Linked DNA regions of Homo sapiens. The protein of the gene in region 7 purifies or fractionates together with the protein of the main gene of each other region. This does not show direct contact. Each region holds a gene or a part of one and is shown on either strand. Other genes may lie near its edges.

Region 1 (3,234 bases), on a different chromosome or scaffold from region 7:
GAGAAGCCATAATTTTGTGAGTTTTGCTGAGACCAATTCTCCATCCTGTCATAATTAGAGAACCCGATGCTGATTATTTTTTAAGTTCCTAAAATTGATCTTTTTTCTTTTCTTTTTTTAGGTACACAACAAAACATTTGAATGATGAGACTACCTCCAAGCAAATTAAATCCATGCTGCAATAACAATTCTGGAATAAGCACCTGCTGTAGACAGAAGACAGTATTCTGCAATGACTGAGAATGCAGTTTTTTAGTGATTGCAATTACTATCTCATTTATTCTTGCTTTTATTTCTTTCCTCTGTTCCTCTTCCCTCTTTTTTAATCATGTTCTTAAGACTTCTTTTCTGTGCCAAAATCAGTAAAGTTACACTCTGAAGGGATATCATCCTTTCAAACGGGCCATCTAAGGCAGCTAATTATGCATTGCATTGGGGTCTCTACTGAGAAAAATTCTGTGACTTGAACTAAATATTTTTAAATGTGGATTTTTTTTGAAACTAATATTTAATATTGCTTCTCCTGCATGGCAAAACTGCCTATTCTGCTATTTAAAAACCCTCAATGACTTTATTTTCTACTGCCGCCTTTTTCATGTGCAACCAAAATGAAAATGTTTAAATTAACTGTGTTGTACAAATGGTACCCAACACAAACTTTTTTTAAATTAGTAATACTTTTGTTTAAAGTTTTAAGTTTGCATTTTGACTTTTTTTGTAAGGATGTATGTTGTGTGTTTAACCTTTATTAACTAACGTTAAAAGCTGTGATGTGTGCGTAGAATATTACGTATGCATGTTCATGTCTAAAGAATGGCTGTTGATGATAAAATAAAAATCAGCTTTCATTTTTCTAAGTGTGGCTTGGTTTACTGATGTTTTGTTTTTAGGCTTCTGAAGTTTTCCCCATGTATGTTTTTATGGAATGCATATATACATTACATGATTTTTTCTTCTTTTAGGGGAGAGCCGGGTCTTTTCATTAGAATTTTGATCATTGTCTATGTATATACTTTTAATTGCCTTTAAAATTTTGCTAAGTATATTAAGACCAGTGATCTTTTCATTAACTGGACTTTTATTCTTGATTTACTCTTGTATGGATGTAGTAATGGAAGGAAAACCGCATCCTTGCTTGATTCTCCATTTCCAGGGGAGCGGGTAGCAACATGAAGGCAGAGTAGCCCTTTAATCATGGGAAGAGAGTGATTATAAGAGGGACTTCCCAGGAGAAAAGCAGAGGCCATGATCTCACTAGTGGTAGAAAACTAACAGGTTTCAGTTTAAGATCATAAAACCTAAATCATGAAATCTAAATCTCATGGTTGGAACAAACTACTTAAAGGTTGTCTAGTTCAACCATGCCAGTGTTTTAAATATTTAGGAATATCCGAGGTATAATACAATTAAAATGTTTAACCATGGAAGAGAATCACAGAGGCTTCCATCAGACCCTTCTGGATTAATAGGGCCAGATCATGGCACACACAGCTTCTCAAGATCACATCCCTGCTGATCTCTCTGGCCCTCCTGATCACTGCTCCCCCACTTCACACCCTGTCCTGCAGCCAGGCCCTACTGCTTGCTGTTCACAAATTGTTCCATGTGATGTCACTTCCTTAGCTCTGGTCTGGCTGGTCCCTGAACCTGACATTCCCTTCCTCCCCTTGTGACCCTCTAATGAACGCCAACTTTCATCTTTGAAGGGTTAGCTTCTATTACCTCCTTCATGAAGCCTTCTGGATAACATTGGCCATATCCTTCTAGGCATCTTCTAAGAATAGTGTAATAGGCTGAATAGTGGCCCCCAGGAGATACATTCACTGGGAATCTCCACGTGTGACATTATTTGGAAAAAGTTTTTGCAGATGAAATCAAGGACCTGGAAATGAGATCAACCTGTAGTAGGGTGGGCCCTAAATTCAATGACTAGCTCTTAGAAAAGAAGGGGAAATAGACACACAGAGCTGAAGGCCATGGGAAGATGGAGGCAGAGATTAGAGCAATGCATCTATGAGCCAAAGAACCCTAAGAATTGGAGGAAGTCACTAGAAGCTAGGAAAACAGGCATGTCACAGATTCTCCCTCAGAGTCTCGAGAAGGAACCAACCCTACCAATATCTTGATTTCAGACATCTGGCCTCCAGGATTGTGAGGGAATAAATTTCTGTTGTTTTAAGCCATGCAGTTTGTGGTATTTTGGTACAGCAGCCTTAAGAATCTGATACATGTATCTCGTAAAACACCTCTGATACTTACCTGCGCTTGTGGCTGTGTTTTCTGATACTATGAGAGCCGTAGTATCTGGATACCGGAGAGTCTGCGAACTTGAGAGAAGGGCCGTGTCTGATTTTCCTTCAGTGTCCCAAGGAAGGATCTTGCACAGTACCCAGATTTGGAGAGGTGCCAAGTGAATGCTTCGGTGGACTGAATGAATACAAATCAAAAATAATGATGCAGCGGGAATGGATGCAGTAAGATTGCTGTGGCCTATGCAGTTCACACAGTTCACACTCTGCATGTTGAGGAGTAAGTGGACAGATCTCTTAAGCCCAGGGGCTAGCAAACCGGTCTGTGGGCCAATTTACTCACCGTCTGTTTTTGTACAGCTTGTGAGCTAAAAATGGTTTTTAAAAAGGTTGAATACAATCAAAAGAATAATATTTTGTGGCATGAGAAAAGCATATGAAATTCAAATTTTAGTGTTCATAAATAAAATTTTATTGGAACCTAAGCCTCACTCATTTGTTGACACATTATTTATCGAGACTTTTGCATGACAGCAGCAGAATTGAGTTGTGACAAAGACCATATGGCCCTCAAAAGCTAAAATATATTTACTATCTGGCCCTTTCCAGAAAGAATTTTCCTCTCCTTCCACTAGATCCAAGAGTAGGTTTATCTGAGAACCTAGTGTGATTGAAGCTGAGGGCTGCAGTGTGATCAAAGGAGACAGCTCTGCTGCCAAAAGATGATTCAACCTCAGAGCTAGTACTTGCCAGTCAGATAGCCAAAGAGAGCAAGCAGGCATCTTCTCTGCCAACTCTATCTGTAGTTCTCATGTCTGTCCTTGGAGTGAAGTATTATGGGGGGTAGGCATGGACTTAGCCAGTGTATTAGTCCATTTGCACACTACTAATAAATACCCCAATACTGGGCAATTTATGAAAGAGAGGTTTAATTGACTTACAGTTCCATGTGGCTGGGGAGGCCTCACAATCATGGGAGAAGGTG
Region 2 (3,500 bases), on a different chromosome or scaffold from region 7:
ATAAACTAATAGCAGCACATCGTGGCAAGTAATACGACAGAGTTAAGCAAATAGAGGAAGGGGCGTTAATTCAAAGAAGGAAGGAAGTCAGGAAAGGTTCTATACTGGGCAAATTACTCAACTTCCCTGTATCCCAGTTTCCTAATTTGAAAAAGGCAGATAATAACTGAATATGCCATAGGAGTTGTTATGATGATAAAATGAATTAATATATTTAAAGTGCTCAGGACAGTGCCTGGCACAGAATGGATACTTTAGATATGCTGCAATTATGAATTCTACATGCAAACATTTTTGCAGTGTTAAAGACAGTGAGGAAAAAAAACAACCTTAAAAGAAAAAGACAGTCTTATTTGGGCTACTATGAAAACCTGGAGCTCAGGAAAAAGAGACTACAAAAAAATAACAATAAATCAGATAGTAGATAAAGCACAGATATGAAAAATTGTTCAAATTGTTAGAATATTACATAAACTTAGTTGATAAAGCAGCAGCAGCAGGGTTTGACAGAACTGACTCCAATTTTGGAAGACGTTCTACTGTGGGTAAAATGCTATCGAACAGCATCGAATACTACAGAGAAATCTTTTGTGAAAAGAAGAGTCAATCAATGGGGCAAATTTCATTCTTGTGTTTTAAGAAATTGTCACAGCCACCTTGACCTTTGGCAACCATCACTGTAATCAGTTAGCAGTCATCAACATCAAGCTAAGGCCCTCCACCAGCAAAAAGATTATAATGCACTGAAGGCTTAGATGATCATTAGCATTTTTAGCAATAAACTATATTTTTTTATTTTTTTCTTTTGAGACAGAGTCTCACTCTGTCGCCCAGGCTGGAGTGCAATGACACAATCTCGGCTCACTGCAACCTCCGCCTCCCGGGTTCAAGCGATTCTCCTGCCTCAGCCTCCCAAGTAGCTGGGATTACAGGTGTGTGCCACCACGCCCGGCTAATTTTTTTGTATTTTTAGTAGAAACGGGGTTTTACCATGTTAGCCAGGCTGGTGTCAAACTCCTGACCTCAGGTGATCCGCCCGCCTCAGCCTCCCAAAGTGCTGGGATTACAGGCGTCGTGAGCCACTGCGCCCGGCCAACAATCAACTATTTTTAAATTAAGGTATATACATTGTTTTTTAGATATAATGCTCTTGCACACTTAATAGACTACAGTATATGTATTTGTAAACATAACTTTTATATACACTGGAAAACCAAAACAATCTGTATGACTGACTTTATTGCATGATATTTCCTTTACTGCAGTGGTCTAGAACCAAACCCACAGTATCTCTGAGGCATGCCTTTATAGGGTCAGGGGAACAGAGCAGTATACTGAGAAAACTGAATTCTTATGTTTCAGACAGAAAGAATTTTCTAAGCATTGCTTAAGCTATCCATTTCTTAGTTTCCCAATGTATGTTAGCAATATTAAAGCTCCGTGAAGAGACTTTCAGTAAATAATTTTTTTTCATAGAGGCAGGGTCTTGCTACGTTTGGCCAGGTTGGTCTTAAACTCCTGGCCTCAAGTAATCTTCCCACCTTGGCCTGCCAAAGTGCTAGGATTACAGGTGTGAGCCACCTCACCCAGCCAAATTTAACTCTTTAAAAACTAGCATTCCACCACATTTGACTCAGAGTTCTCCTTTTAAGTTAACTCTATGAACATCATGAAGAACTAGTGTTCTTTCCTTGTAACTCATTTGGAGAAGTATTATACTAGACATTTCTCTCAACGATGAAGGCAATCCAATAATCATAACCCTTTGAGTAAGAGCTTTCAAGCTATTACAAATCTACCTAAAAATAATCTTTCAGGCTAAATTTCTCCCCATCTTGTCCACAAGAATACAGTGAAACTCTCATCTTACTGATACTCAGAACATTTTTGCCTGAGGAAAATAATCTGCCATCTTACCTTGATCATTCATACTATCCATTATTGTCATTAATTTCTTTAGCCTTGCCATTGACTCCTGTTCATTTCCTTTGCTCATAAAATCTGTCCCAAAACCAGGGATCATCCCCTACAACAGATTTAAACATAAAGTCAATAGTAGCTTAAGATTAATGGTTCAAAATGTCCACATTTAACTATTAGGTTTAATATTGACACTAAGTCTTAGATATATTTTTACCCGAATGTAAAAATAATTAAAGCAAGTGTATCTATTTTAGAAAATTTAATGAAAACAAAAGAAGGTATAAAGTTTTAAGGATAACTAACCAAGATCTGACTGAAGGGGCCCATTTTCATGATATTTTGAAATTGCTCATACATGTCTCGCAACGTAAACTGACCTGAAATACAATGTAAATAATTCGGATATATTAAAGTATGTACATTTCCATTCAACAAAACTAATTTATTCCTTAATCATGAATTCATCTTGAAGCATATTTATAAAATATACATCAATAAATATTCACCAAGCAGTTACCATGTGCAAGATGACAGGATGAATGCTGGGGAGAATACATAGACAAAGACAGGTCCTATCATAGAGAAGCTTACATTCTATCTGAGAAGACACATATACAAACACACAAGAAACCTGAAAACAAGGCACATAAACTACACCTACTAGGATGAGTAAAATTTTAAAGGTTGACAATATCAAAAGTTAAAGTGGATGTGGACCACAAAGAACTCCCATATATTGGTGAGAATATAGAATAGCAAGACACTTTAGAAGATTGTTTGGAGTTTCTTAAATAGCTTAGGTATCTATGAACAGGAAAATGGATACACTGTGGAAAAAATATTATTCAGCAATAAAAAGAACAAACTATAGATAAGTACAACTACATGAATTAATATCAAAATATGCTTAGTCAAAGAAAACAGATTGGAAGAAAAACGATATACTCAGAATTTCTTTATTTTTTTAAGAGGGTTGTGCTCTATCACTGAGACTGGATTGAAGTGGTACAGTCATCACACACTGGTAGCCTCAAACTCTTGAGCTCAAGTGACCGCCTGCCTCAGTCTCCAGAGTAGTTATGACTATGGATGCATGCCACTGGATTTTTCTAAGAGATATGGGTCTCACTACATTGCCCAGGCTGGTCTCAAACTCCTGACCTCAAATGATCCTCCCACCTTGGCCTCCTAAAGCACTAGGATTACAGTGTGAGCCACCATGCACAGCCCAGGACTTCTATAATATGAAGTATTACCGGGAAAGGGCACAAGCAAACCTTTTAGAGTAATGGAAATGTTCTGTTTCTTGATTGGGTGTGGGTTACTGTGCATTTGTCAAAAAAAGAAAGGTATCCTTAGGATTTGAGCATTTCATTGTATGTATACTAACCTAAGGTTTAAAAACAGGGATGGAACAAGCCAAAAGAGAAAGTATTTTCTATTTATGTCCTAAAGATAAAAAGAGAAAAGGTATTTGGTTCAGGCATTCTGAATGTGAAGTGGCAGTACAGTATCTTAAAAGAAATGTTATAGCAGTCAACTAGAAACGCAGAATTAAACAGTGGAAGAGAGGATTA
Region 3 (3,500 bases), on a different chromosome or scaffold from region 7:
TCTTCCCCTCCCTACCACGTTCCAAGATCTGTCCATGGTACCATTGCTGGTTGATCTTGGAACCCTGCTTCGGTCACCCCTCCTTTCTCTTCGCCCAGACTGGAGTGCAGTGGCACGATTTGGCTCACTGCAACCTCCACCTGTCAGGTTCAAGTGATTCTCCTGCCTCAGCCTCCCGAGTAGCTGGCACTACAGGCACGTGCCTCCACACCTAGCTAATTTTTGTATTTCTAGTAGAGACAGGGTTTCACCATGTTGGCCAGGCCAGTCTCGAACTCCTGGCCTTAAGTGGTCCACCCAGCTCAGCCTCCCAAAGTGCTGGGATAATAGGCAGGAGCCACTGTGCCCGGTCACTGTCACTGTCTTATTGCATGTTTTCTTCTTCATCTGCTTTCATAAAGGATAAACAGTGACTTAATAAAAGGTGTCTAATTCTCCCCTCCCTAGTGGCAATACGGTTGGACTAGAAGGTGAATTCAGTTGAGAACAGGGAACCTATCATTTCTGCGAGTGTAAGCTGGGGCATAGAACAATGCCAGGCATAAGGTAGGCACTTGGATGAATGGATGAATGAATAAATATGGCTTCTGTCCCCCAAGTTTACTGCTGAGCTTTCTCCTGCATATTGACTGAGCTCAGATGTCAAAATTGGGTCTGATCTGTAGTTTTTTTTTTTTTTTTTTTTGAGACAGAGCCTGTCACTCTGTCGCCCAGGCTGGAGTGCAGTGGCGCAATCTTGGCTCACTGCAACCTCTGCCTCCTGGGTTCAAGCAATTCTCGTGCCTCAACCTCCTGAGTAGCTGGAATTATAGGTGTGTGCCATCATGCCTGGCTAATTTTTTGTAATTTTAGTACAGATGGGGTTTCACCATGTTGCCCAGCTGGTCTCGAATGCCTGACCTGAAGCAGTCTGCCCGCCTCGGCCTTCCGAAGTGCTGGGATTACAGGCGTGAGCCACTGCGCCTGGCCTGGTCTGTACTTCTGAAGATTATTCCAAAGTACAGTAGGAACTTTTGGTAGGACTTTAGTTTTCCATCCAGGTATAAAATTTTGTGTCAGTGGTGGGGTTGCGCATGTTCAGTAGCTGCAACACTAGAAAGATGGCAAAGCAGGAGCAAAGAAAAATCCCTTTGGCTCCAGAAAATCTCCTGAAAGCAGAAGGCTTATCAAGGCCTCAAAGCCACCCAGTCAAAGTAGGCACTTTTGGCAAAGGAGGAGCAGAGGGAAGGAAAAGAGCTCAGGTTTAAACGACTGGAATCATTCCTACATGATTCCTGGCGGCAGAAACATGACAAGGTGTGTCTCAGACGACTAGAAGTAAAACCTCACACCTTGGAATCGCCAGATAAACATTCCTTGGCCTTTGTTGTACGCGTCGAAAGGATTGATGGTGTGAGTTTACTGGTGCGGAGAGCCATTGCAAGACTTAAACCTAAAAATGCAGCGTATAGTATGTAACCTTATGTGACCTGGGGATTTCCAAATCTGAAGTCTGTCCAGAAACTCATTTTGAAACGTAGACAAGCCAAGGTCAAGAATAAGACCATCCCTCTGACAACACAGTGATTGAGGAGCACCTGGGAAAGCTTGGTGTCTTTTGCTTGGAAGACCTCATTCATGAAATTGCCTTCCCAAGGAAGCATTTCCAGGAGATCTCATGGTTCTTGTCCCCTTTCCACCTCTCAGTGGACTGTCATGCTACCAAAAATAGTGGACTTTCTGAAGGAGATTGGCACACCTCCATCTTCTTGGGGGTGTGTGCATCAATCAGCTCATCCGCCAGCTGAACTAGAGCCAGGTGCCAAACTACAGTAAATTTTTATCAATGAACTGGAAGCTTGTGTTATTTTTGGGGGCGGGGTGGAATTTTTATCAAGTATCTTCAGAGAAGATTATTTCCTGCTTTATCTTCAAAAACTGTAAAGGAAGGGTCAAAGGAAAGACAGTGGCTGGCCGGGCCCGGTGGCTCACGCCTATAATCCTAGCACTTTGGGAGGCTGAGGCGGGCAGATCACCTGAGGTCGGGAGTTCGAAACCAGCCTGACCAACATGGAGAAACCCCGTCTCTACTAAAAATACAAAAATTAGCTGAGCGTGGTGGCACACGCCTGTAATCCCAGCTACTGGGGAGGCTGAGGCAGGAGAATCGCTTGAACCCGGGAGGCGGAGGTTGTGGTGAGCCAAGATCAGACCTTTGTCCTCCAGCCTGGGCAACAAGAGCGAAACTCCATCTCAAAAAAAAAAAAAAAGAAAAGAAAAGACAGTAGCTTACGTTCATGGCGGCACCTCTCATCACAGTCCAGTTCCAAGGAAAAATTCCAGCGTTTTCTACGTTGGCTGCTGCCTTGTCTGAAATCACATTTTGTGGAGAAAGGAGTCTTGCTTTGTTGCATCTTCTATCCTAGGGTTTAATGTTGGTGAATGAGTAACTCTAGCATTTGTACAAGGCTCCCTAAGAGTCCTGCAGCAGTCGACCAAGCCCGGGGACATAATTGAATCCGGAGATTCCTGGGGCCTTGAAAAAGGCTTGAAATATACATAGGAAGAAAGGCACAAAAATAAATGCTCACTTGTCTCTGCAAAAAAAAAGAAAAGAAAAATTGTGTCTCAAGTTCCTTCTGTAGTTGATAATTTATTCAGTAATCATTTTATAATTGAAGAAGAATATTCTGACTCTAAATCTTTCTAGATCAGTTACCTGGATGCTGAAGACATGAATAAATTTGTTTATTTTAAAAATCCTAGGGCCTGGCACAGTGGCTCATGCTTATAATCTTAGCACTGTGGGAGGCCGAGGTGGACGGATCACTAGAGCCCAGGAATTCAAGACCATCCTGGGCCACATGGCAAAACACCATCTCTATTTAAAAATTAGTGTTTTTAAACATCAGTGTTTAAAAATTAGCTGGGTGTGGTGGTGTGTACCTGTCATCCCAACTACTTGGGAGGCTGAGGTGGGAGGATCACCTGAGCCCAGGGAGGTTGAGGCTGCAGTGAGCCATGATCAGACCACTGCACACCAACCTGGGTGATAGAGTGAGACCCCCATCTCAAAATATACAGTAATAAATGAAAAATAGAAAATTCCCCAAATAAATAAATAATAGAAAATTCTAATGAAAATAAAAGGAGTTGAGTGTAACCGTTGAGTGTCTGCGCTGGGTGTTTATGTCTCATGTAACCAACGTAGCACTGTGAGCATGGTCATCCCGGAGACGGACTGTGATAAATCGTGTGCCCAGGATCCCAGAGTGCATAGGTGGCATATCTAGGTTTTGAACCAAGGTCTGTTGGTCTTTTATAGCTCAACTGGGTTGTGAGTTTGTTGAATTTCACTTTCCATGCTTTCCCCAACCAAACCAAAAACCAGAGGGGGAACTGAAAGCTGAGAGCCTAGTAATTGAGAAAAGGACTCTGGGAGGTGATGGTGTCAAAAAGCAGTCCAGGGAAGCTCTTGTGGTTGAGCACACAGCTCTGCCCAGAGCTTCCTAGATGCCAAG
Region 4 (3,500 bases), on a different chromosome or scaffold from region 7:
TGAGTGGTCTCTTCATTATAATAAATGTCTTTATAAATGGTTAGGATTTCATGGTAACTAAAATTGGTGGGTCAGTTTTAAGTTGTATTTATGCAGTTGAGGATTTTTAATCTATTAATTAAACAACTGTTTGAATTTACTTAAAAAAAAAAACTCAGTCAAGATGCTGTGCATTTTGCTAAAGCTGGGCTGGAGAAGTGGGGAGAGATACAAAGATGAGTATAAATGAAGGTTTTCTTTTAGCCTGTCAGAAAAGAGTAACTCTACTGATTGGTTGATTTTGATAGTTATCGGTAGTGTAGTTTTCCTTAGTTTCCTACTAGAACCCAAAGGGTGGCTGATGTCTTAAAAGTCCTAATCTTGTGGCCAGAAATTTATGAGCTTTTATTTACTCTTGGTCATCACTTTGTAATACATGAGAGTATACTCATTATACATTATACCACAATTTCTGTAACTTGGTTTTTGTCACCCCCGCCTTTTTTTTTTTTTTTTTTTTTTAAGAGACGTAGTCTTGCTTTGTTGCCCAGGCTGGAGTGCAGTAGCGTGATCTTGGCTTACTGCAGCCTCTGCCTCCCAGGTTCAAGCAATTCTCCTGCCTCAGCCTCCTGAGTAGCTGGGATTATAGGTGCCTGCCACCACATTTGGCTGGTTTTTATATTTTTAGTAGAGATGGGGTTTTACCATGTTGGTTAGGCTCTTCTTGAACTCCTGATGTCAAGTGATCCTCCCGCCTCAACCCCCCGAAGTGGTTGGGATTACAGGTGTGAGCCACTGTGCCCGGCGACATTTTTGACATTTTTTAAATGACATTTTTGATCAGGATTGTTTTTCATGTTACTTCCATCTTAAAGGCACTTCGCTGTCTAAGCTTCAATTCTTAGTTCTGCTTTTAAGTAGCTTTTTTTATTCCACACAAAAAGCAGAGGCTACTGAATATACAGCCTTCTTGGTGAGGATTATAAAGGGCTTTAGTTTGGGTGGTGATGTCTGTAGTAAGAATAAAAAGTTAAAATAAAAGGTAGCTGATGGTGGTGGTGTATACAGAGATTAGTAGGGTTTCTAAGAAAGAATAATAAAAATTTGTGAAATTGTTTCTATTTTTCTGATTTTTTTCAAAAAAGATAATTGTATTCATGGATTACTTGTGTAACTATTGTTACAATTTTTAAAAATAAAAGAATGATAATTAGGCATGATGAAGATTAAATCTTTTTTTTTTTTTTTTTTTTTGAGATGGAGTTTTTCTCTGTCACCCAGGCTAGAGTGCAGTGGTGCGATCTCGGCTCACTGCAACCCCTGCCTCCTGGATTCAAGCAATTCTTCTGCCTCAGCCTCCTGAGTAGCTGGGATTACAGTAGCCACCATGCCTGGCTAATTTTTTTGTACTTTTAGTAGAGACAGGTTTTCACCATCTTGGCCAGGCTGGTCTCGAACTCCTGACCTTGTGGTGCACCTGCCTCGGCCTCCCAAAGTGTTGGGATTACAGGTGTGAGCCACTGTGCCCGGCTGAAGATTAGATCTTTATGACTAATTGGATTTTTGGGTAAGGGATTCAGAACTTGATAGATGCTTCTTGACTTAAAGTGGGGCTATGTCATAAGTCAAATGAGTTTAATTCTCAGATAAACTCATCCTAAAGTTGAAAAATTGTAAGTTGGGCCACCTGTAATTGGGGACCATCTGTAATTGGGAGAATGCTAGTGACATTGAAATAATTAGTTATCAGTTAGACATAAATATGTACCTTTTGAAAATTTCCCATAGAAAATTTGAGTCATTATTGAAAATACATTTTCAAATTCTTTTGATTCATCAATAAGTTTGTTTGCAAAAGTTAATGACAGTGGCATAGAATTGAGTTTGTAGACCAAATTACATGGCATAGATATGTATTTAGACGAATATGACCTGAAAATGGCCCTTTTCTGACCTAATGGTGGGAATCAACTCTTGTTTGATGTTTCTTAAAAGATTCTACTTTATTAATTCTGCTTGTTTTAGTTACATCCAGAGCATTCCAGTTGTTAATGAAGAACACAGAGGTGATTTTTCCTATATTGGAAATTTGATGACAAAAGAATTCATAGGTCAACAATTGATTCTAATTATTAAGTCTTTGGATACCAGTGAAGAAGGAGGAAGGTATGTCTAAATGTTAACACTCATTCTAATTTGCCCTTCTAATTTCTTATATTGAAATATAGTCCTTTTACAATATAACTAAACATATTTACCCTAGCTCTCTAAAGTGGTATAAAAAGTTTTCTTTTCCCTTCTACATATTTCCATATATACACATACATTTATATTTCTAGTTCAATTTCCTCAGAATAAATCAATGAAATTGCAGTTTTTGGTTAAAAGTTTCTGTTTAGATTTATTAAGGCTAGTAGCATTTTCTAAAAGGTTTAATCATTTCTGGTATTTTGTCATTTTATCATGTTGATTTATTAAAAATCATAGGGTGTTTTATAAAAATTTTTTTTTGTGTGGAATAAGAATATTTGACCTAAAGTCTGTACATACAGATTTTTGTACCTATTATAGTGATAAACCTAAGTGAAAGAACTGAGGCAAATGTAATTAAGTTTGCAGAGTAGGTGAATGTTAGAGATAAAACATGTTTTGTCATAATAATATTTAAATTAGTTCTTTTTGACTGCAGAAAAAAACTGCTGGCTGTTTTACAGGAGATTCTTATTTTACCCACAATCCCAATATCCCTGGTTTCTTTTCTTGTTGAAAGACTACTCCACATCATTATAGATGATAATAAGAGAACACAAATTGTAAGTAATTTTCCTCATTGTTGATAAAGAGGTTTTGGTCAATGACATTGAATACTGTCTTATTTTCTGTTTAGAACTTTTTGTTTTGTCTGTTTTGTTTTAGGTTCGTCTCTTTAATGAGTTTTAAAATTTCTTAAAACCATTATCTATCTCTTACATACACAGAATATTTGAAAAATGTCACCTTCTTCCTCTTAGTGTACCTGTTATTGTTGAATCAGTTTGAAATGGAGCAGGTTTGGTAGGAAGTTACAAGTGGGGATATGGTTTTGTCCATGAGGCACTGGGTGCTAGTGTTTTTGAGAGCTTACTCAAATTGTACATACTAGGGTTTAGAATCTCATCTGACACTTTCTGGCTTTGTGGCTTTGGACAAGTTATTCTGCTGTTTTACTTGTCTGCAAATAAGAATAGCAATGAAATCTACCTTTCATTTTTCAATGAGGTATTGTTCATAAAGGTATTGTTCTGTATTGCTTGATAAATACAGAAATAATTGTTTACTATAATACTATTTCAGTGTTATTTTTTTCTGGCATAGCCAAAAAAGACAGATCTGTATCATTTATTTCATAAAAATCACATAATTTCAGTTGCAGGTTAATTCACAGATCATCTCTTCCATCCTCTCCTTATATATACACCCCTTCTACAACATGCTTAGTTGTTATTCAGCATCTGCTTAAATACTTTCATTTGGGAGGCAGC
Region 5 (4,219 bases), on a different chromosome or scaffold from region 7:
TCAGGGGTTCGAGACCAGCCTGGCCAACATGGTGAAACCCCATCTCTACTAAAAATGCAAAAATTAGCTGGGCGTGGTGGCTTGTGCCTGTAACCCAAACTACTCAGGAGGCTGAGGCAGGGGAATCGCTTGAACCAGGGAGGCAGAGGTTGCAGTGAGCCAAGATCATGTCACTGCACTCCAGCCTGGGCGACAGAGTGAGACCCTATCTCAAAAAAAAAAAAAAAAAAAAAAAAAAAGAATGGCAAATTATCTCCAGTCCAAACTTAACTCCCAGGTAAACTGACTGACTCCTATTACTAAAAGCAACAAACAGCAAACAGGGAACCTACAACCAAATTGAGTTTGGTTTCAGAGAAAACTCAGAGAACTCCCAAGGCCAGCCTTAACCAAAATCACCCAGCAGTGCCCCAAAATAATATGAAGCTATTCTAAACTGAAGCCTTCACAGACAATTTCCTGGCATACAAATGCAGTTATAGAGGAGATGGCGTGTGGGTGACATTATACACAACCACCCTGTGAGATTTAGTATCCCTATTTTAAGGGAGGAAAGTCTGAAAAACTGACTTGTCCAAGGTCATCTGCTGCCACAGTGTCACAATTCCAACCCCTCTTCTCCTCCATATCAGTGATTTTAACACCATAGGGACTGCACACTCTTTTATACAAATCTCATTTTTAAAATCTATTTGAAACTCCGTCTAAATTGTACTTAAAAATAATGGCCTCAAATAATATTAACATATAATCTGTCTATTGGAGATCACTAACGTGTTAATCTACTCTTGCCAGAATAACTGATTATGCGAAACCTGGAATAAAGGTGTTCCTGCCAAGTAGCTTGAGATAATTAAAGCAAGCTGTTTAAACAAACAAAACAGCAAAAAGTGCATCTACTTATCCATATACATCAGAACTTTTTGACACTGTGTAACTAAACCAAAATAAATATACTGAATGCTGTGTTCACCGTTTTTCTGACGGATGAGAACTTTAAAGGTAAATGCTAATACATACGTGAATTTGGAAAACAGTACCTTTTGTATATGTAGGGTCCTGCATTTATTACAGAGTTCAACCAATAGAAAAGGCCGGAAAACCACAGCTGCCAGTGGTTTTGAATTATTTTCCCCCTTTTAAAGGCCTAACTTGATATTGAGTCTTCACACAGATGGCTGATTTGAAAAATATTAAGTAAAGCAAACAACTATTACAAAGTAGGCCTTCTCATATTATGCCATTTTCTACTACAGAAAACAAATGATAAGTATGTTTCAGCCATAATAATTTTTAGACACAAATTTGTATACCTGAGAGGTATTTGTTTACAATGTTAGGTCTTCAGACTGAACAGATGGGAGCGGCATTCCTCATCAAAGGAAGACCTTAAAAATCCTCCGCCAAAATCCTGCCTTTTGCCATATGATGCAACCATAGGCTACACCTGCTTCACCAATTTGTGTACCCAATAGTCATTCTCATGGCAACACAGCCACCCAGTTTCTTGGAAGCAGCTATGGTGAAACTGAAAAATGTGCCAGGGTGAATTCTAGAGGACATGGAATGCAAGCTTACTAAATAAATATGCAAATTTCAAAATAACAACTCAGAAGGAAAACTCACTTCTAAAACATTCTTGACCATATGAAACAAAAACAGACACAGGCGCTACCACAAGCTGGAACTCACGACTTCACTATCTTTTCCTGCCCGGATGCCCTCTCCTGTGTGATGAAGAATTATGCTCGTGGGCAGTGAAGAACACTGCTGACACTTACATAATATCAGAGCAGAAAGTAAATACAGGAAGGGCCAGCTTACAGCCTCATCACGTGGTGGCCAGGGCAGGCGGTGCTAAGGGTGATGTTGACAGATGTGTCAACCAAAACAAAGCAAGGAAGTCTTGCTAATAATGGAGAGGCTGCCGTCCTAAAACCAGACTGAAGGCGACTCCTGCCTGCTTCCCTTCTCAGTCGCTCTTGGTCAGAAAGTGCACGGGGCTCCACCCCGGGACTCGGCAATGGCTGCTCGGTCCAGTGCGACAGGGAGGGGCACGGCGGAAGGTGGCCAGGGAGGAGAAGAGCCACGTCCTGCTTCTGGGTGTGGGGCCTTCCGTCCACAGTGTCTGGGCGGTCCCCAGGTTTCTCAAGCCACGGCCCCGGGTGGCACCTGCCCGCTCCTCTCCCTGCAGAGAGGCTGCGTTCAGAAACCTCATTTTGCAGCACGGATGTTTTCTTACTTCTAGCCATTGGATGCAAGCCCAATTAGGAACACCGAGTTGCCTGGCCGCTGGGGGAGAAACAGGCTTGGAGGGTGAAATGACTCGCCCAAGGTCAGGCTGCTGATTACTGACGGCTACTGGGCAACAGAGGGGCGCCCGCGTCGGCGGGGCAGGGAAGGGGAGACCACAGCCCTGGGGGAGGTGACCGGCCGAGCGATCGCAGCCGTCAGCGGGAGGAGGCCACAGGACAGGGCAGCCGGACGTGGCATCCCCAGCAGAGGGCGGGGGGCCACAGCCTAGGGGCGGGAAGTCGGGGCCGCTCTCACCGGACGCTCGGGGTAGACGCGGCTCAGGTGGGCCTTGAGGTGGCCCACACTCCAGCCGCGGTCGCCACTCAGCTCCAAGTCGCGGTGGCGCTGGTTGGGGCTCTTCACCAGGAGCGTGACGGGCTCGGGTTCGGTCTCGGACTCCATGGCGGCGGCGGCGGTGTCGGGGCTCCGCTGCGCTCCTAGGTGCCAGGCAGGCGGCGTCTCAGCCGCCCGCAATCTCTGCAACGACAGTTCACGTCTCTGGGGCGCGCGCCCCCGCTTCGGGCGCCTTTTATAGAAGCCCCGCGCCCGGCTCTGCGGACAGAACGCTCTGTGGCTGCCGCCCATTGGCTGAGGCGGAGGCACTCTCCCAACGTGGCCCAATCGGCGTCCGGATCCGGGTGGCAGAGGGCGGACCGAGCACGTGGGCACGGGCTGATGCAACCCGCCGCGTCTGCGTCACCCAGAGGCGCGGCTGTGCCCCGGGAACCCGGGTTCGGTGGCCATGTTTGGGTGCGCTGCAGGCCGCGCGGGGAGCTTGGTCTGAGACCTGCGAGGCCCCCAGCTCGGGTGGCTGAGGGCGCCCGAGGCAGGGGGTGGGGAGTGGGGTATCCTAGCAGACCCCAGTTTAGCAGTCTCTGCAAATTCTTTCCTCACAAAGCCGCACCCCCACCCTTTTTCACCCCAGGTGTCAGTGCCCACTTCCCCTTTTCCTGCCTCTGTGGCCCCACGTGGAAACCTACGGGGAAGCCCGTCCTACAGGGGAAGCCTACCCACTCGAACCCTCAAAGAACGGCTGGGCGACCCCGAGTGCAAGCCCACCTAGGAGAACTCCACGTGCTCCTAAGAAAGACAACGAAGGAGCAAGGCCAGATTTTCCTTGGGCTGGGAGGATGGAGGCATCCAGGCAGCTGTTGCCAATTTCCCTGGGCCTCAGACTTGAACGTTTGGGACATCACCCTAATGATGATTGACAAGTCAGCCACAGTCCTGCTCACACTGGAGTCCCCCTCAAAACGCGTCACTTTATAAGATACTCACACATGCACCCGTTAAATTGGGGCTGAGACGAGGAGGGCGGGGTTCTCCGATTCCTGAAGTGGGACCATAAAGGCCTCTTTATTGTAGGCGTTCCCTCCTCCTCCTCTGTAGGAAAAAAAAAAAAAAAAAAAAAGGCTTGAAAAACAAAACTGACATTGCCCCGGCTCCCTCCTTGTTCCAACCCCCTTGGGACATCTGTTTTTTCAGGTGTTGTCAGGAGCTTGTCAAGGTCAGGAAGGTAACAGGAGGAGCCTGGTCTGGTTGGTGGGTATATTCATCTGCTGCAGCTGCCATAACAAAGTGCCACAAACTGGATGGCTTAAGACGGGGTCCCCAACCCCCCTGGGCCACGGACCACTATGAGTCCCTGGCCTATTAGGAACCAGGCGGCACCGCAGGAGGTGAGCCACCAGCGAAGCTTCATCTGTATTTACAGCTGCTCCCTATCGCTGCATTACCACCTGAGCTCAGCCTCCTGTTAGATCAGGGGGCATTAGATCCTCACAGGAGCCGAACCCTATTGTGAACTGTGCACGCAAGGGAACTAGGCTGTGCTCCTTACGAGAATCGAATGCCTGATGATGGGAGGTGGAGCTGAGTTGCTGATGCTAGTGCTGAGAGTGGCTGCAAATACGGATTAACATTA
Region 6 (2,215 bases), about 37 Mb from region 7:
TCGCACCACCGCACTCCAGCCTGGTGACAGAGCGAGACTCCATCTCAAACAAAAACAAAAAACAAAAACAAAAAAATCAGCCAGGCATGGTGGCACACACCTGTAATCCTGGCTACTCTGGAGGCTGAGGCAGGAAAATCCCTTCAACCCGGGAGGCAGAGGTTGCAGTGAGCTGAGATCACACCACTATATCCAGCCTGGGCAACAAAGCAAGAGTCCATCTCAGGGGGTGGGGCGGTAGGGGCGGGAAAAAGCCATGTGCCTTTGTGGATTATAACAAAATTATGGGAGCAGTGGACTCAGCTGATCAGATGTTCATTTCTTATCCAACTGAGTGCAAAAGCACAAGGTTTGGTATAAATTAATCCACCACCTTCTAAACATTACAGTGCATGAACTAAATTAGAAAATTATCTATTTATAAACGGAAAGTAACCACACAAGCACAATGGAGTATACAGTACGAATTAGTCATATAAATACAAGTGGTAGCGCAACCATTCTGAGTCAATCTATTTTATTGACCAAAAGATTCCTGTGGAAACAGGAGGTGAGTGCCCTAAGCCCTCACTCCTTAGCACTCTGCGTGCTGATGTAGTCCTGGAGAAGCGCCTGCGCCTCCATCCGCCGGCTCATCTTGGTGGCCTTGCCCTGAAAACGGCCTTTCTTCCCTGCTCCTTTGCCTTCCAGGACCTCAGCCACCCTGGGGAACAGAGGTATAGTCAGGGAGACTTTGAGGGAAAAGTCACAAAAAAAAACAAGGGCAGCTCTGAGTCTTTTTCCAGGGACTGGGAGAGGGATAAGAAGAGTAGATGACTTCTAGGAATCTTTCTTGAAAACACTTGCACATAGGCTGGGCATGGTGGCTCACACCTGTAATCCCAGCACTTTGGGAGGCCAAAGTGGGTGGATCACCTGAGGTCAGGACTTCAAGACCAGCCTGACCAATAGGATGAAACCCCGTCTCTACTAAAAATAAAAAAATCAGCCGGGCATGGTGGTATGCGCCATAATCCCAGCTACTCAGGAAGCTGAGACAGGAGAATTGCTTGAACCCGGGAGGCAGAGGTTGCAGTGAGCCGAGATGGTGCCATTGCACTCCAGCCTGGGCAACAAGAGTGAAACTTTGTCTCAAAAAAACACTTGCACATATGCACAAAGATATATGTACCATCATCACATAAGAGTGAATAACTGGAAACAACATCAGTGTCTATGAATTGGGCTAGATAAATTATGTTAATCTCCAGAGAGCAGGGTGAGCACCTGTAATCCCAGCACTTTGGGAGGGCAAGGCAGGTGGATCACTTGAGGTCAGGAGTTCGAGACCAGCCTGGCCAACATGGTGAAACCCTATCTGTACTAAAAATACAAAAAATTGGACGGGTATGGTTATGTGCACCTGTAATCCCAGCTACTTGAGTGGCTGAGGCAGGAAAATTGCTTAAACCTGGGAGGTGGTGGCTGCAGTGAGCTGAGTAGCCTGGGCTCTCCAGGCTGGGCAACAGACTAAGACTCCATCTCAAAAAACAAAAACAAACACATTTCATAAAAACAAAAACAAAAACATACATGTGAGATGTGGAGCCAAAAGACCTTCAACTGTCAAACTGGAAATGACAGTAGTAATAATTATCTCTGCTCAGCCCACCTCACATGCCCATGATGTGAATTAAATGAGATCGCAGATGTGATGGTCCTTTGACTCAGTAAAGGAATGTATTTGTAGGATACAGGCTCTACTACATGTGCAAGAGAGTCCACAAAGAATTACCTGGGCCCCAGGGTCTCCACAGACGCAGGTGGCCCTGCCAGTAAGAAGAGTCCACCACCTTTCTCATCGCCCACAGTTAAGAACAGGAGGGTCTCCTAGGAGGTAAGACAAGGAGATAAGCTCTGATACTGAAGGATGTAGAGTCAACCCCCCAAATCCTGCACTCTCTTCAATCTTAAGAATAGATTATTTCCCCCTAAACCACCAAGTGACGCTCCTGATGAATGATGATACAGCCCCTCCACACTGGCCCACGAGGGCCAAGAAACTTTTTGAGAGCAACTATGGGAACTTAGGTGAAACATTAAGAAGGCAGCAGAAGACTGCTGATCCTGGCTAAGCAGAAAATGCCTTTCATGGTTTCACTCTTGCAAACTTTTCCCCACCACACATCCTTTCCCTGCCACTGCCTAAACCACCAGGTTTCCCTCTGCCTGGCCG
Region 7 (3,500 bases):
GTAATTCAAAACCTCACTAAAGAAGGAACCATTAAAGCAGCATCCTCAATTTGCACTTATATTTCTACTTGTAATCCTCCACAGTTGATAAAATTAGAAATGTATCTGAAAACTTCTGATTTATACTGGAGTCAGAAAATAGTATAATTCAAAATGAGTTTTTAAAATTCTTACAAATTAACAATAAAAACAAACATACCAACAGAAAAAATGGGCAAAGGGCTGAATATGCAATTCAAAAAGGAAATCCATGTGGTCAATAAACGTGAGAATGTTTGCTCTCACAATAATCAAAGGAAAGTATATTAGAAACTGAGATCCCGGCAGGTGTGGTGGCTCATGCCTGTAATCCCAGCACTTTGGGAGGCCGAGGAGGGTGGATCACCTGAGGTCAGGAGTTCAAGACCAGCCTGACCAACATGGCAAAACCCTATCTCTACTAAAAATACAAAATTAGCCGGGTGTGGTGGCGCATGCCTATGATCCCAGCTACTAGGGAGGCTGACGCAGGAGAATCGCTTGAACCCAGGAGGCGGAGGTTGCAGTGAGCCGAGATTGAGCCACTGCACTCAAGCCTGGGTGACAGAGCAAGAATCCGTTTCAAAAAACAGCAACGACAACAAAAACAAAACTGAGATCCCTTCTACTGCCCAAACATTAGCAGGATGGGGGTGGGGGCACAGCCTGGTATAGGGAGTCAAGAGCCCCATCAGACCATGCACACATGGAGGTGGCCTGACGAGATGTTAGCCCGAGTAGGATGGGGAGGCATCCCTGTAAGAGGGCAGCCTGGTCTGGGGAATCTGAGGGTGAGTGAGATAAGCAAGGCATCCATATGGGAGAGGTGGAGACTATCCCGAAAGACTGGTTACATATGAGGGGTAATTAGGTAGGTAAAACATTAATCATAATAAGAATCAGGTTAGGACAGATGGAAAGGGCAGATGGAAAGGAGTGGTACATTCATACAACCAAATAATATTCAGCAATAAAAAGGAACAAATTACCAATAAATACAAGAACACAGATGAGTCTCAAAAACATTATGTTGAATGAAAGAAGCCTTATACCAAAGAGTACATGCATACTGTACAATTCTACTCATGAAGTTGTAGAACATGAAAAACTAATCTACAGAGGAACAAAACCAGAATAGCAATTGCTTCTTGGGGGACAGGTACAATGATTGACAGGGAAGGACATCAGGGAACTTTCTGGTTGATGGTAATTTTCTGTCTTGATAGATACACAGATGTGTGCATTTATAAAAACTCAGTTGACACACTCAAGATTTGTGTATTTTGTTGCACATAAATACTAAACTCTAGTTACTGATATGCACACTCAAGTATACAAGGAATTAAGTATACATATAATGGCACATACATTTTGGATTGGAAAGCTAGATGTAGGGATAGGTGTGCAATAAGAATAGGGAACTATTAATTACAGAATCTATGTGGTGGCTACATGAAGCTCACTCCAATTTTTTTCTGATTTCCTATAAGTTTGTTAATTTTCATAATAAAATATTGGAGGAAACCAATAGGAAAAAAGCTAGAATGAACCATGAGGTAGTACTAGAAATGGGAGTATAGTATAAACCCATGTTTTAAAAAATACATAGATCTAAAAATATACACATGTATACATTATCATACATACATACATATAATTCCATTGCTCTGTTCACTGAGAGGATCTGGGAATAGCAACACTCCAATAGCAATGAGCACATCTAGCACCCAGATCTTGGCTTCTAAATACCATTCTCCACTTTAAAGGAACCAGGGCTCCTTGAAGAAACAGCTGATTCTAGGACTGGATCAAGGAGAGCACAGGATGAGCCTGGTATATCTTGTTGTGCCAGAAAACAATTGCAAAAAAATAAAAAAATAAAAAGTGGGGTGTAGTGGCTCACACCTGTAATCTCAGTGCTTTGGGAGGCCAAGAGACAAGAGGATCACCTGAGGACTGGAGTTCGAGACTAGCCTGGGCAACATAGAGAGACCTTGTCTCCACAAAAAAAAACATTTAAGAAAGAAAATAAGCAGAGCTTGGTGGTGTGCACCTGTAGTCCCAGCTACTCAGGAGGCTGAGGTGGGAGGATCACTTGAGCCCAGGGGCTTGAGTTAACAGTGTGCTATGATCATACCACTGCACTCCAGCCTGGGCAATGGAGTGAGACCTGTACTGCATATGTAATTTCTTGTAGGACTGAAATTGTTTCAAAACATTTTTTAAAAATCATAAACAATGAGACATCATCCTACAACTATTCAACTAGGAAAGGGTAAATAAAATGCCTTCCTTGTTTGATTAGGATGTGGGGAAATGAACAGTTATAAATGCTAGTTGAAATGTAAACCTGAACATCCATTCTGGAAGGCGTTTGGCAACAAAATAGGAATTCTACTTCTAGGAATTATCTTTTGAAAATAATCATGGATGTGTGCAGAGATTTAGCTACAAGGACATTCACCACTCCAATTACAGAAGAGAAAACCAAGCACTAACGTCAATGTCCATCAACAAGGGATTAGTATAATTACACCATATCCATACCATGGAATATCACCTGTTATAATTTTATAACACTTCAGGGTGGAAAAAACAATTATGGCATACTAAGTTTACAAGGTTACAAAAATTGTTTTTTGAGACAGGGTGCCACTCTGTCCCCCAGCCCGAAGTGCAGTGGTGCGATCTCGGCTCACTGCAGTCTCAACCCTCTGGGCTCAAGCAATCCTTCCACCTCAACCTCTCGAGTAGCTGGGATTACAAGTACATGCCACCATATGCAGCTGATTTTGGGATTTTTTGTAGAGATGGGGTTTTGCCATGTTGCCCAGGCTGGTGTCAAACTCCTGAGTTCAAGTGATCCGTCTGCCTTCACCTCTCAAAGTGCTGGGATTACAGGAATGTGTTATGTTGTCCAGGCTGGAATGCAGTGGCTATGTTAAAGGCCTAGCCCAAGAAGAGCAGTGGCTGTTCACAGGCGCAATCATAGTGTATGCAGCCTTGCCTGGCTCAGCGTTTTTTAAAAAGTACACAAAGACTGAAGAATACACATTGAAAAGTTAACAATGGTGGCCACTGCTATACCCAAGTGTCGGGATAGTGGACAATTTCACTTTCTTCTTTTTTGCTTACTATTCTACAACAAACATTTTATAACAAAAACTCACATTTTACTTCTCAATTGAGCCCTTTTTAATATGGCATCTCCCAAGGATACCAAATTCCAGAGTAGAAAGAGGTCTCATAAATCAAAGTTCTACTGCACTCCAGCCTAGGTAACAGAGTGAGACTCCATGTAAAAAAAAAAAAAAAAAAAAAAAAAAAAAAGAAAGAAAGAAATCAAAGTTCTATCTCAGGAAACTGAAGTGCAAAAAAGAAAGGACTTGCTCTATGGCTGGTCAGTGGGACAGCTACACCTGGTTTCCAGTCCAAAGCTATTTCCACTCTGCTTCACTGCTTATCTCAACCACCTGCTTGGC

The links.
Region 1: the proteins of DERL2 (region 7) and CYRIB purify together in Homo sapiens (affinity purification with mass spectrometry; one large-scale study listed by BioGRID and IntAct). This does not show direct contact.
Region 2: the proteins of DERL2 (region 7) and SRP54 purify together in Homo sapiens (affinity purification with western blotting; one study listed by BioGRID). This does not show direct contact.
Region 3: the proteins of DERL2 (region 7) and POR purify together in Homo sapiens (affinity purification with mass spectrometry; one large-scale study listed by BioGRID and IntAct). This does not show direct contact.
Region 4: the proteins of DERL2 (region 7) and NCAPG purify together in Homo sapiens (affinity purification with mass spectrometry; one large-scale study listed by BioGRID and IntAct). This does not show direct contact.
Region 5: the proteins of DERL2 (region 7) and HERPUD1 purify together in Homo sapiens (affinity purification with western blotting, with the first as the bait; one study listed by BioGRID). This does not show direct contact.
Region 6: the proteins of DERL2 (region 7) and AARSD1 purify together in Homo sapiens (affinity purification with mass spectrometry, with the first as the bait; one large-scale study listed by BioGRID). This does not show direct contact.

Annotation. Positions count from the first base shown.
Region 1 is NC_000008.11:129,839,093-129,842,326, reverse strand, and holds the end of CYRIB (CYFIP-related Rac1 interactor B), read left to right. Parts: intron 1-121; coding exon 122-185; 3' UTR 186-2,734; downstream 2,735-3,234. UniProt on the Homo sapiens protein: Negatively regulates RAC1 signaling and RAC1-driven cytoskeletal remodeling. Regulates chemotaxis, cell migration and epithelial polarization by controlling the polarity, plasticity, duration and extent of protrusions.
Region 2 is NC_000014.9:35,017,492-35,020,991, reverse strand, and holds part of SRP54 (signal recognition particle subunit SRP54), read right to left. Parts: intron 2,301-3,500; coding exon 2,227-2,300; intron 2,027-2,226; coding exon 1,918-2,026; intron 1-1,917. UniProt on the Homo sapiens protein: Component of the signal recognition particle (SRP) complex, a ribonucleoprotein complex that mediates the cotranslational targeting of secretory and membrane proteins to the endoplasmic reticulum (ER).
Region 3 is NC_000007.14:75,921,655-75,925,154, forward strand, and holds part of POR (NADPH--cytochrome P450 reductase), read left to right. Parts: intron 1-447; exon of another isoform or gene 448-546; intron 547-3,500. UniProt on the Homo sapiens protein: This enzyme is required for electron transfer from NADP to cytochrome P450 in microsomes. It can also provide electron transfer to heme oxygenase and cytochrome B5.
Region 4 is NC_000004.12:17,820,979-17,824,478, forward strand, and holds part of NCAPG (condensin complex subunit 3), read left to right. Parts: intron 1-2,004; coding exon 2,005-2,145; intron 2,146-2,668; coding exon 2,669-2,792; intron 2,793-3,500. UniProt on the Homo sapiens protein: Regulatory subunit of the condensin complex, a complex required for conversion of interphase chromatin into mitotic-like condense chromosomes.
Region 5 is NC_000016.10:56,930,723-56,934,941, reverse strand, and holds the start of HERPUD1 (homocysteine-responsive endoplasmic reticulum-resident ubiquitin-like domain member 1 protein), read right to left. Parts: upstream 2,801-4,219; 5' UTR 2,698-2,800; coding exon 2,551-2,697; exon of another isoform or gene 1,648-2,550; coding exon of another isoform or gene 1,627-1,647; intron 1-1,626. UniProt on the Homo sapiens protein: Component of the endoplasmic reticulum quality control (ERQC) system also called ER-associated degradation (ERAD) involved in ubiquitin-dependent degradation of misfolded endoplasmic reticulum proteins.
Region 6 is NC_000017.11:42,950,026-42,952,240, forward strand, and holds the end of AARSD1 (alanyl-tRNA editing protein Aarsd1), read right to left. Parts: intron 1,870-2,215; coding exon 1,775-1,869; intron 704-1,774; coding exon 568-703; 3' UTR 501-567; downstream 1-500. Other genes in the region: PTGES3L-AARSD1 protein, read right to left, coding at 568-703, 1,775-1,869. UniProt on the Homo sapiens protein: Functions in trans to edit the amino acid moiety from incorrectly charged tRNA(Ala).
Region 7 is NC_000017.11:5,476,179-5,479,678, forward strand, and holds part of DERL2 (derlin-2), read right to left. Parts: intron 1,822-3,500; coding exon of another isoform or gene 1,779-1,821; exon of another isoform or gene 1,671-1,778; intron 1-1,670.